Homo sapiens: one gene and its partners. The protein of the gene in region 2 purifies or fractionates together with the protein of the main gene of each other region. This does not show direct contact. Each region holds a gene or a part of one and is shown on either strand. Other genes may lie near its edges.

The links.
Region 1: the proteins of AKAP7 (region 2) and SEC63 purify together in Homo sapiens (affinity purification with mass spectrometry; one large-scale study listed by BioGRID and IntAct). This does not show direct contact.
Region 3: the proteins of AKAP7 (region 2) and URM1 purify together in Homo sapiens (affinity purification with mass spectrometry; one large-scale study listed by BioGRID and IntAct). This does not show direct contact.

The regions. Positions count from the first base shown.
Region 1 is NC_000006.12:107,902,558-107,906,208, reverse strand, and holds part of SEC63 (translocation protein SEC63 homolog), read left to right. Parts: intron 1-1,487; coding exon 1,488-1,580; intron 1,581-3,210; coding exon 3,211-3,365; intron 3,366-3,651. UniProt on the Homo sapiens protein: Mediates cotranslational and post-translational transport of certain precursor polypeptides across endoplasmic reticulum (ER). Proposed to play an auxiliary role in recognition of precursors with short and apolar signal peptides.
Region 2 is NC_000006.12:131,141,919-131,145,569, forward strand, and holds part of AKAP7 (A-kinase anchoring protein 7), read left to right. Parts: intron 1-3,366; coding exon 3,367-3,498; intron 3,499-3,651. UniProt on the Homo sapiens protein: Probably targets cAMP-dependent protein kinase (PKA) to the cellular membrane or cytoskeletal structures.
Region 3 is NC_000009.12:128,384,841-128,388,491, forward strand, and holds part of URM1 (ubiquitin-related modifier 1), read left to right. Parts: intron 1-2,975; coding exon 2,976-3,057; coding exon of another isoform or gene 3,058-3,061; exon of another isoform or gene 3,062-3,651. UniProt on the Homo sapiens protein: Acts as a sulfur carrier required for 2-thiolation of mcm(5)S(2)U at tRNA wobble positions of cytosolic tRNA(Lys), tRNA(Glu) and tRNA(Gln). Serves as sulfur donor in tRNA 2-thiolation reaction by being thiocarboxylated (-COSH) at its C-terminus by MOCS3.

The DNA of each region.
Region 1 (3,651 bases), about 23 Mb from region 2:
GGCAGAGCAAGTGTCTTCACATGGCCAGAGCAGGAGGAAGAGAGAGATGGGGGAGATGCCACACGTTTTTAAACAACCAGGTCTTGTGAGAAGTGTATCTCGAGAACAGCACCAAAGGGAGAACTCCACCCCCCTGATCCAATCACCTTCCACCAGGCCCCACCTCCAGCATTGGGGATTACCATTCAACATGAGATTTGGGTGGGGACACAGACCCAAACCATAGCATGGTGGTGCGGTGTGTTTTGTTGCTGTTCTTTTTTGGCCAAATAATTGCTCAAGGACTTTTTAAAAAAGAAATGTATATGCTACATAATTACTTCACAAATGGTTTGAAGATCTAAGTAAGTCAGACGTTTTGGCAAGTGTTAAAATTTAGTGTTTCAAGGTGAGAGAATGCTCTGTATAAGAAATGTTTAGTTAATTGCAGATCATACAAAAGTTCCTAATAATTTTTTTAAAGGACTTTGTAAGTTTTTGGAGGGAGCAAAATGGATTTCACAACAACCAACACCTCTCACCTCCCCATCTACAAGCTTCCTCCGACAGTGGTTACCAATAATGTCTGTTTTATAGTTATTTAAAGCTTCATAAGTACTTGAAGCCATGTATTCTGCTTAAAAGAAAAGTAGTTGATGGAGGCAACAGTGTTTCCAGGGATGTCATTAATTATCTCTTTTTCACCGACATTATTTCAGTTAAAGTTTTAAAAGACAGTTACTACCTCTAGGAAATAAATGTTCTTTTTGAATGATATCCTACCATCCCCCACCTCCTTTAAGGCAGTAATGCAGTTAAATGCTTCCGAAAACAAGGCCATGTGACGCTTAGTAATTGGTGATAGGACAGGATGCTTATGGTGGAATGAAGGAGCACTATTTAGGCAATATCATTGGAGTTGCTTTGAAATACTCAATTAACTAGTAATTCTGTTGCTAATGTTCTGTACAGATACATAAGCATCTCCATTTTTACTTACCTGTAAGAAGCAGGAAACAAATCATTGTTGAGTACCAAATCCATAGGTTAATGTGGTCTTAATAGTTAACTATTATATGCAGTATAAATGAAAGAGTCTTTCTCTTTCTGTAAGTTGCCCTCTTCTTCTCTTCTACGTCTCTTATCTCTCCCCCTGTATTTAGCTGACATATTTATTTTGACATATTTAGTTGATCTGCCTGCCTCAGCCTCCCAAAGTGCTGGGATTATAGGCGTGAGCCACCATGCCCAGCTGGGAGTTGGTTTATTAAGCCTAACATTATGATATTAAAAATTTGTCTTTGAAACGTCTAATCTGAGCTAGGGTTTTATGGCTGATTTTTGACATAGTGATACTGAGGAGAAACTCTTCCATTCAATCTGTAAAATTCTGAGATCATGTGAAATATTTGTGGCATAACTTTAATATTAGTTTTGGGCCACAGTGATAAAGATGCTTTAACTGTAAAATTAAAATGATCTGTTTCAGGTTTTTTATTGTTTTGCAGATCAGCAATTCATGCTAAAAAAGTGTCCTGCCCTACTTCAAGAAATGGTTAATGTAATCTGCCAACTAATAGTAATGGCCCGGAACCGTGAAGGTGAGGAGGAAATATAGTTAATTATGTTATACTTTTTCTTGCAAGCATATGCAGATTGTACTTCATATTTTAGGATTTATGGGTACTCAGACTTCTGTCGGCCAGTTCAGTGAGCTTCTTCAATTTTACTCATGTCTTTTCATATTTCTTTCCTATATTTTCTATTATTTAAAGTCTATATCACAGCTCACTGGGTTTTTTTTGTTCTTTTTTTTTTTTGAGATGGAGTCTTGCTTTGTCGCCCAGGCTGGAGTGCAGTGACAAAATCTTGGCTCTCTGCAACCTCTGCCTCCTGGGTTCAAGCGATTCTCCTGCCTCAGCCTCCTGAGCAGCTGGGATTACAGGCGCGTACCACCACACCTGGCTAATTTTTGTATTTTTGGTAGAGACAGGGTTTTACCATGTTGGCCAGGATGGTCTCCATCTCCTGACCTCGTGATCCACCTGCCTCAGCCTCCCAAAGCCCTGGTCACTGTGTTTTTGATTTTAATTCTTGTTTTTTTTTTTTTTGGAGACAGAGTCTCACTCTGTCGCCTAGGCTGGAGTGCAGTGGCGCGATCTTGGCTCACTGCAACCTCCGCCTCCCAGGGTCAAGTGATTCTCCTGCCTCAGCCTCCTGAGTAGCTGGCATTACAGGCGCATGCCACCACGCCCGGCTAATTTTTGTATTTTTAGTAGAGACGGGGTTTCATCAGGTTGGTCAGGCTGGTCTCAAACTCCTGACCTTGTGATCCACCTGCCTCAGCCTCCCAAAGTGCTGTGATTACAGGCATGATAATTTAATTATTTTATTGTTCAATTGTTTGCAAAGATTTAAAATTTCTCTTTCTTTGAATAATTTTTGAGTTAGGTCATTTTTTCTAACAGTGAATTTGAAATCTTTAACTGATATAAAAGTGATTCATATGTCATGTAATTTTTATTAATTAATTATAGACAGCATCTACCAGGGCTGGAGTCCAGTAGGGTAATCATAGCTCACTGCAGCCTCAAACTCCTGGGCTCAAGCAGTCCTTCTACCTTAGCTCTCCGAGTAGCTGGAACTACAGGTGCATACCACAGCACGGAGCTAACTTTACATTTTGTGTAGAGGTGGGATCTCACTTTGTCGCCCAGACTGGTCTGGTTTCCAACTCCTGGCTTTAAGCAATCCTCCCACTTCAGCTTCCCAAAGCCCTGGGATTACAGTCATGAGCCACATGCCTACAGGCACCTAGCCATTTTTTTTTTTTTGGTATGGAAGGAAAAGAATGAGGGAATTTCTGGTCAGTAATGGAAAGGAATGCCCTTAAAAAAGGATAGTGGTTATGGTTTGTTGTTACGGGTGATGTTGGTTCTTGTCATGGTGTCATATGTTGGTGATACTGATAATGTCTGATAATTTACTATTATTTGAGGTGAGGCAAATAATTTTTCTTTTAAATCAATGGTTGTTGCTGGAAAATGTTCATTAGATCGAGTTTGTATATTTTTAGTGTCTTCTCTGGTAACTTTTAAAGGAAAATCTTACTATGATCCTCAAATTTGAGGTGTTATGGATTTAGTGTGAATTTTGTTTTTGTGATGAATTGTATACTCCTGAACATGTAAAAAGTCCAGCCCTGTTTCTTTTTTTCCTGTTCTTTCTAAGAAAGGGAGTTTCGTGCTCCAACTTTGGCATCCCTAGAAAACTGCATGAAGCTTTCTCAGATGGCCGTTCAGGGACTTCAGCAATTTAAGTCTCCCCTTCTGCAGCTCCCTCATATTGAAGAGGACAATCTTAGACGGGTTTCTAATCATAAGAAGGTAATTCTTTGCTACTTTAAAGTCAGTTTTCAGCAGTTTGTCCTGTCACTTAAAGGTAACATGAATAAAAGTTTTCTGGAAATGGTTACTATGCATTTTTTAGATTTAGAATGTCTTAAATACTCTAAAACTTTCTCTCAGGTGGTTCTGTTAACATTTTCTTGACTAGGTAGCTGTGTTTTATAGTATTTTACTACTGTAAGTAGTTTTATTATTTTGGGGGTTGTTGCATTTAAAAAGTCAACAGTTAGTTCCTTATATTATGTTACCAAAAATAAATGTACTG
Region 2 (3,651 bases):
GCAACAGGGTCTCACTCTGTCACCCAGGGTGGAGTGCAGTGGGAAGAAATTTTTGAGCAGCAAAGCATTCAAGAAGTGGCATGGCAGCTTCTGATGACCTACAATCAGATATGGAAGCAAAGGAATGACTTAAAGTTGCTTTCCTTATAATTAAAAGGGAAGCAGAGCACAAAAATTTGGAAAATTTGCAGCTTAGGCTTGTGGTAAAGAAGCAAAAAGCATTTTCAGGAGAGGAATTGAAGTGGGCTGTGAAGGAACCACTTGCTAGAGAGATTAGCATGACTAAAATGGAGGCAATTCCTAATAGCCAAGACAATGGGAAAAAGGCCTTGAAGGGATTTCAGAAATCTCCAGGGCAGCTTCTCCGATCACAGACCTGGAGGCCTAGAATGGTTTTAGGGGACAAGCCCAGGGGCATGCTGCCATGTGCAGCCTGGGGACACTGCTCCCCACATCTCAGTTTCTCCACCTCCAGCTGTGGCTCAAAAGGCCCCAGCGACAGCTCTGGTCACTTTGGAGAGCACAAGCCACTGTAAGCCTTGGGGGCTTCCATGTGATGTTAAGCCTGCAGGTGCACAGAATAAATGCAAGAGTGAAGGAGGCATGGCAGCTTCCACCTAGATTTCAGATGATGTACCAGAAAGCCTGGGTGCTCAGGCAGAAGCCTGCTGCAGCAGTGGAGCCCTCACAGAGAAACTCTCCTAGGGCAATGCTGGGGGGAAATGTGGGATTGGAGCCCCCACCCAGAGTCTCCACCAGGGCACTGCCTAGTGGAGCTGTGGGAAGGGGGCTGCCACCTTCCAGACCCAAGAATGATACAGCCACTGGCAGCTTACACCCTGAGCTTGGAAAAGCTGCAGACATTCAATTCCATCCTGTGAGAGCAGCCACAGGGGCTTCACCTTGCAAATCCATAGGGACAGAACTGCCTAAGGCTTTGGGAGCCCATGTCTTGCTCCAGTGTGCCCTGGATGTGGGACATGGAGTTGAAGGAGAGCTTTGGAGCTTTAAGGTTTATTGTCTCCCCTGCTAGGTTTTGGACTTATGTGGAGCCTGTTGCCCCTTTCTTTTGGATTTCTCTCTTTTGGAATGGGAGTGTTTACACAATACCTGTACCACCTTTGTATCTTGGAGCTGAATAACTTCTTTTTGATTTTACAGGCTCATAGGTGGAAGAAACTTACCTTGAGTCTCAAATGAGACTTTGGACTTTTGAGTTAATGCTGGAACGAGTTGACCTTGGGGGACTATTGGGAAGAGATGATTATATTTTGCAGTGAGATTTAGGTGGCCAGGGGCAGAATGATAATAGTTTTTATGTTTGTCTCCTCCAAATCCCGTGTTGAGATGTAATCCCCAATGTTGGAGATAGGGCTTGGTGGGAGGTGTTTGGGTCATGGGGGCAGATCTCTCATGAATGCCTTCGTGCCCTCCCTGCAGTAATGAGTTCATGTGAGATCTGGTTGCTTAAAAGAGGCTGGCATCTCTGCCTCTCTGTCTTGCTGTTTTTCTTGACGTGTGACATGTTGGCTTCCCTTTGCCTTGCACCATGATTTTAAGCTTCTTGAGGCTCTCACCAAAGCAGATGCTGGCACTGTGCTTTGTGTGCAGCCTGCAGAACTGGGAGCCAAATAAACCTCTTTTGTTTGGAAATTACCCAGCCTCAGGTATTCCTTTATAGCAATGCGAATGGACTAATACAACAGGGGTGTGTGTGTGTGAACAATAGTAGAGATTAATCAAATTGCAGTAAAAATGTGTGTTTTTTGGCTTGTATGTTAACTGTGGCCTATCATCATAGCCATGTTGTAGCCATATTCTTTTTTTTTTTTTATTTTTTATTTTTTATTTTTTATTTTTTTATTGATCATTCTTGGGTGTTTCTCGCAGAGGGGGATTTGGCAGGGTCATAGGACAATAGTGGAGGGAAGGTCAGCAGATAAACAAGTGAACAAAGGTCTCTGGTTTTCCTAGGCAGAGGACCCTGCGGCCTTCCGAAGTGTTTGTGTCCCTGGGTACTTAAGATTAGGGAGTGGTGATGACTCTTAACGAGCATGCTGCCTTCAAGCATCTGTTTAACAAAGCACATCTTGCACCGCCCTTAATCCATTTAACCCTGAGTGGACACAGCACATGTTTCAGAGAGCACAGGGTTGGGGATAAGGTCACAGATCAACAGGATCCCAAGGCAGAAGAATTTTTCTTAGTACAGAACAAAATGAAAAGTCTCCCATGTCTACTTCTATCCACACAGACCCGGCAACCATCCGATTTCTCAATTTTTTCCCCACCCTTCCCGCCTTTCTATTCCACAAAACCGCCATTGTCATCATGGCCCATCCCCAATGAGCCGCTGGGCACACCTCCCAGACGGGGTCGTGGCGGGGCAGAGGGGCTCCTCACTTCCCAGTGTAGCCATATTCTTAATGGACTATGTTTTACAGGTATTGTATCTGAAAATAGAGTATTACAAGAGAATGAATTAAAGGACTTCTTAAACATCTTGAGTGGTAAATTAGTCTTTAGTAAATATGTAGAGTAAAAATTATATTAGTATTCCAGGATTCTGTTCAATCTTATTAGTTCGGACAGCATTTGTGTCTGTCAATAAAGGCATGGGTTATAATGGCACTGGGGAGACCACCATCTGATAAATTTAGCAATTAACTTTATCAATTTAAACATACACCTTCTTTCTCTTACCTCCACCCAAGGTATATGATTGTTCTACCCATAGCAAGAAAACAAAAAAAGACCAAATAGGAAATATGGCTTTAAAGTTAGTATATCACCATGGGAGAGGAGTTAGGGAAACTGTAAGATCATTTGCTTTTTAATAATTGAATTTTCAGAAAAGCATATTTAGAACCATGTATTTTTAACTAAATATCCAGTGTTAAATATAATGATGGAGAGAAACAACTTAAAAGTCTTTATTGAAGAAAAAATTATAGGCCAGAACTTGTACAAATAAGAACACATAAGTGATATTGCTAAAAATAAGAATGAGAATGACTGACAAACCTTGCTGGTTGTTTTAAAAGGTACGTGAAAAAACGTAGTTTTAGAATTAAAATATAGCTGTAAAAGATCTTGAGGATTATTGATTGACTCAGTTTTCATCTAATCATACATTGAATACTGTGTTTTAGAAAATGATTAAAGCTTTATAAGTGTACAAAAATATAGAGTGTGGTATAAATGTTTATATAAATAGCTTTATGATATATTTGAACACAAGTAGTACATTTCTTAACAGATGTTAATTTATATTGAAATCAGTGAGCTGAGTTATTTTCATTTAGGATATGTTTAAATAATGACAAGTTAAATAATCCTTTTTTTTCTGTTTGTGATATGTTAAAGGAGGAATTAATTCCAATGAGTGTGAAAATGTATCAAGAAAAAAGAAAATGTCAGAGGAATTTGAAGCCAATACTATGGATTCTCTGGTAGACATGCCATTTGCTACTGTAGATATTCAGGATGACTGTGGAAGTAAGTACTTTATTAAGTAAACGCGTATTTAGAAGCAATGAGTAGTAAATTTAGTTATATATATATTTTTTTCTTTATAAGTTGTTTCACTTTTAATACTTATGTTTTTGAGTTTTAATTTTGATTTCATTTCATTTATTCTAGTTTTTTGAG
Region 3 (3,651 bases), on a different chromosome or scaffold from region 2:
TCCAGCTCAAAACCAGGCCTGTCTGACTCCAGGGTCCATACTCTTAGTCTCTTTCTTCCTCCCTCCTTCCCTCCCTACCTCCCCAGTTGTCCACTCAAGTAATGGTAATGGTAGTGCCATACATTTGAGCTGGATCGTGATTCAAGTGTTGAGTCAGAGACACATGGAAGCACAGGCCTGGGCAGTGGGGCCTGGTTCCCAGGAAGCACATACCTGGGAGATACCGCTGAGGTTCACTGGGAGGGAGAGGCCCCTACGGGAGCAGGCCCGTTCTCAAGGCCTGGCCCCATCTCCTGCTGAGCTTCTTACCTTCTCTGTTCTGCTGCCTTGAACCTGCCCATTCCATCCTGCCCCAGCCTTCCCATGTGTTATCCTTCTGTCCAGAATGCTCCCCACCCCACTCATCCTTCAGACCCGAGCTTCACTGTTTAACACCCTCAGTCAGGCCTCTCCTGATCCCAGATGAAGGAGATAGCATTTGTCACAACTAATTAAGTATGGTATGTCTCCCCTGCTGACCTCTAGCTCCCTGAGGGTAGGTAGCTCTGTTTCCCTCTTGCCCACTACCATCTCCCTAGCATCTTGCACATAGTAGCTGCTCAATAAATATTTTTCTCCTGCATGATCACACGGGATCCCAGGAGGGAGACCGCCCCTAGTAGGAGAGGGAAGACAAGAGGACACAGAGTGGGAAGGTGAAAGTGAGAGTCTCCAGCCCCTATCTATCACAGAGCCATCCATCCCCAAGCCACCAGCCCCTGACTCTGCTTAACCCTTCCTCCTCCCCTGGGCGCCTTTGGAAGCCGACCATCTGGCTTGGAGGCTATTTGCATATTGTCTGTGCCTCAGCAAGCCTAGCAAGATGTCCCTGGGGGTGTGTTTCAGGCCAGGCCGAGTGGCCCTTGCATCCTGCGAAGGGAGCCATGAGTTCCCCCTCTCCCCACCCCCAAATCCAGGCATGGGGGAACAATACGAGTGGCGATGCGGTAGCCTCACCATGGTAACAGGCTATCAAAAATGTGGGCAGGCCTGGGTGGGGGGCGGGCAGAAGAGGGAGGGAGTGACCTCAGCAAATAGGAGCATCATGATAAATGAGCCCGCACTGGGCAGCAGACTCATCCCCCAGCTTGTCCCTCTGGGACTCCATGCTGGTGCCATCGTTTGGATGACTCCACCATGACCACTAGCCCTTCCCCCACCCCCAGGCCTATCCAGAGTGGAGCAGAAGCACCTTCCCTTTGGAGGGAGTCAGGGCTGTCCCCTAATTGAGTCCTGGTTCCATGCAGGCCAGGCACTGCCCAGACCTTCTCGCCGCCTCCACACACACAGGCACACCCCCGCCCGCTAGGGCTGGCTGATGGATGTGTCAGACCCCGGTGGCTCTATCGAGCAGCCACAAGATGTATGGGTTGGCGGCCCACCAGACAGTACCAAGATGGAGGCCAAGGGGATTCAGAGCCAAGGGGAAACCTCTGAAACCCAGACCTCAGGGAGGAACCCAGCCAGGAGTCCAAGTGAGCTGCAGCTAGTTGGAGGCAGCATTTTCCCCATCCCATGCCTGCTCCAGGGACCGTGAAGACTCTGATCTGCTTTGTTTAAAAGGAGACATTAAAATGGAAAGGCGGCAGTCTCAGTCCATGGACACTTTGCCCGTGGCCCTGTGCTTTGCTGGCGTACGATCCAGGCAAGTTGGCACCAAGCAAAGTGGACCATCCAGGCTGCAGGCCTGTCAGAGCGAGGGGGCACGCGTGCCAGCCAGCGTGCCTTAACTCCCTGCCCAAGGCTGGGGCCGTGTGTGCGTGCCACACTGTGGGCCCAGACAGGGCAGAGCAAAGTCTCCCTGAGTCCTAGCCACCTTTCCCTTGCGTACACTCTGGACTCCAGGCAGGAAAATCAAGGCCTCACCTGGGACTTCTCCAGCTTAGCCCTGAGCTTTGTCTCAGGCATTAGTCCAGGACAGCAGACCCCTCTGGACGCTGACTCGGGATGGGGTGCTTAACCCCAACCTGTCTGCTGGCTTCCCAGAGGCGAGTTGTCTCCCTGGGACCTTTATCCTCAAGTCGTCTAAGAGAATGAGAAGGAACTCCTCAGCCTCAGGAGAATGGCCCTGTTTCGGGGGCGGACAGTTGAGGACCATAGGCTTCGAGGTGTTTATAGAGCCACATTTCTGTGTGCTGTGGCCCGATACTGCTGCCCCTAGGAAAGGACAGGTGACCCTGAAGACAGGTGGCTCTGAGCCTCCACATGACATACAAGGAGGCTGGTGGCTCCCCCAGAACCACAAGGAGGCAGATCTCAGTGTTAGCTGAGCTGGAGAGGCCCTGTCACCCGAACCTCTGGCCACCGCTGGCGCGGAGGGCTCTGGAAGCACAGGGTGGTGGCAGGGGAGTGGAGCAGGGATTTGTCAGCATCCCTAGCTGGTGAATGATCCTTCTCTCCCTCTGCCAGAGGAAATTAACTGATGTTATCAGCTCAGCAATTGTTTTTTTCCCCTCACAAAGGGAAATATATGCAGACCCCTCCAAGAGCAAAGCCGAATCCTCCCCATCTGCGACTGGCTGGAGAGATAAAGGTGGAGGGGGCTCTTCAAGGTCCTCTCAGAAGTCCAGCCATGGCAGTTGGAGACTGGCTTCCAGGACTTGTGGGTAGGGGCCTGTCTCCTAACCCTTTAGATGCGACAGTCCTCCCGCCGTCTGCCTTGAATCCCCCCACTATAGGTAAATCCCATTGCCTCTTCTCCAGGACTTCAGCAGTGCCAGGTGCAGCTTTCTCTGAAGATCCACCTGGCAAGTCACTGGCCTGTCCTAACCTGTTTCCTCACCTTTGGAATCTACAAGTTCATGGGCTATCACAGCCTGGTCTAAAAGAAGCCCTCTAAACACCGTGTGTATTTCCTTGTGGGCCAGGCAAGGCTCTGGGGGTGGGCAGGTGCTATTTGGGTTTGACAAGAGTTTGTTCTGTGCATTCCTTTCCAGGGGACATCCGGAACCTGCTCATCTGGATCAAGAAGAATTTGCTAAAAGAGCGGCCAGAGTTGTTCATCCAGGGAGACAGCGTGTGAGTCCCACTCCTCCCTTCCCTGAAGCAGGTGGAGGGAGGGACGGATATTTGAGCCCCCACCCTCGGGTTCAGTCCTGGCCTTCTCTGAATCCGGTTCTCCCCTTCCTCCTCCCTAACTCTTCCAGCTCTGAGATCTGTTTTCAGTTTTCTTGTTACTAAACCGAACTCTTGAGGATTTTTTAAATCCCAGATGAAAGGAGCCTGGTGAATTTCTCAGAAAACTTGGATTCTGCCCTCTGGTTGCCACAGACTTGCTGTGGGACCTTAGGCGACTTACTTCGCTTCTCTGGGCCTCAGTTACTCTCTACACAGAAAGTGCTGAGGAAAAAACGTAGCTAGTACAACTGAAGAGCTAAATATTCTGTTTTATTTCATTGTAATTTAAATAGCCACATGCAGCTAGTAGATTACCATACAGTGCAGCACGGGTCTAGAATTCCAAGGAGTCATTGACTCTGTGCGTGCACACACCCATGCACATGCACACACACTCACTGGGGACACCCCATAGAAGCCCAGTGCAGTCTCCTTGGAAAGGACCAGGTTCCAGTTGCCACGAAGTTACTTCTAAAACAAGGCCAGTCCCCCACG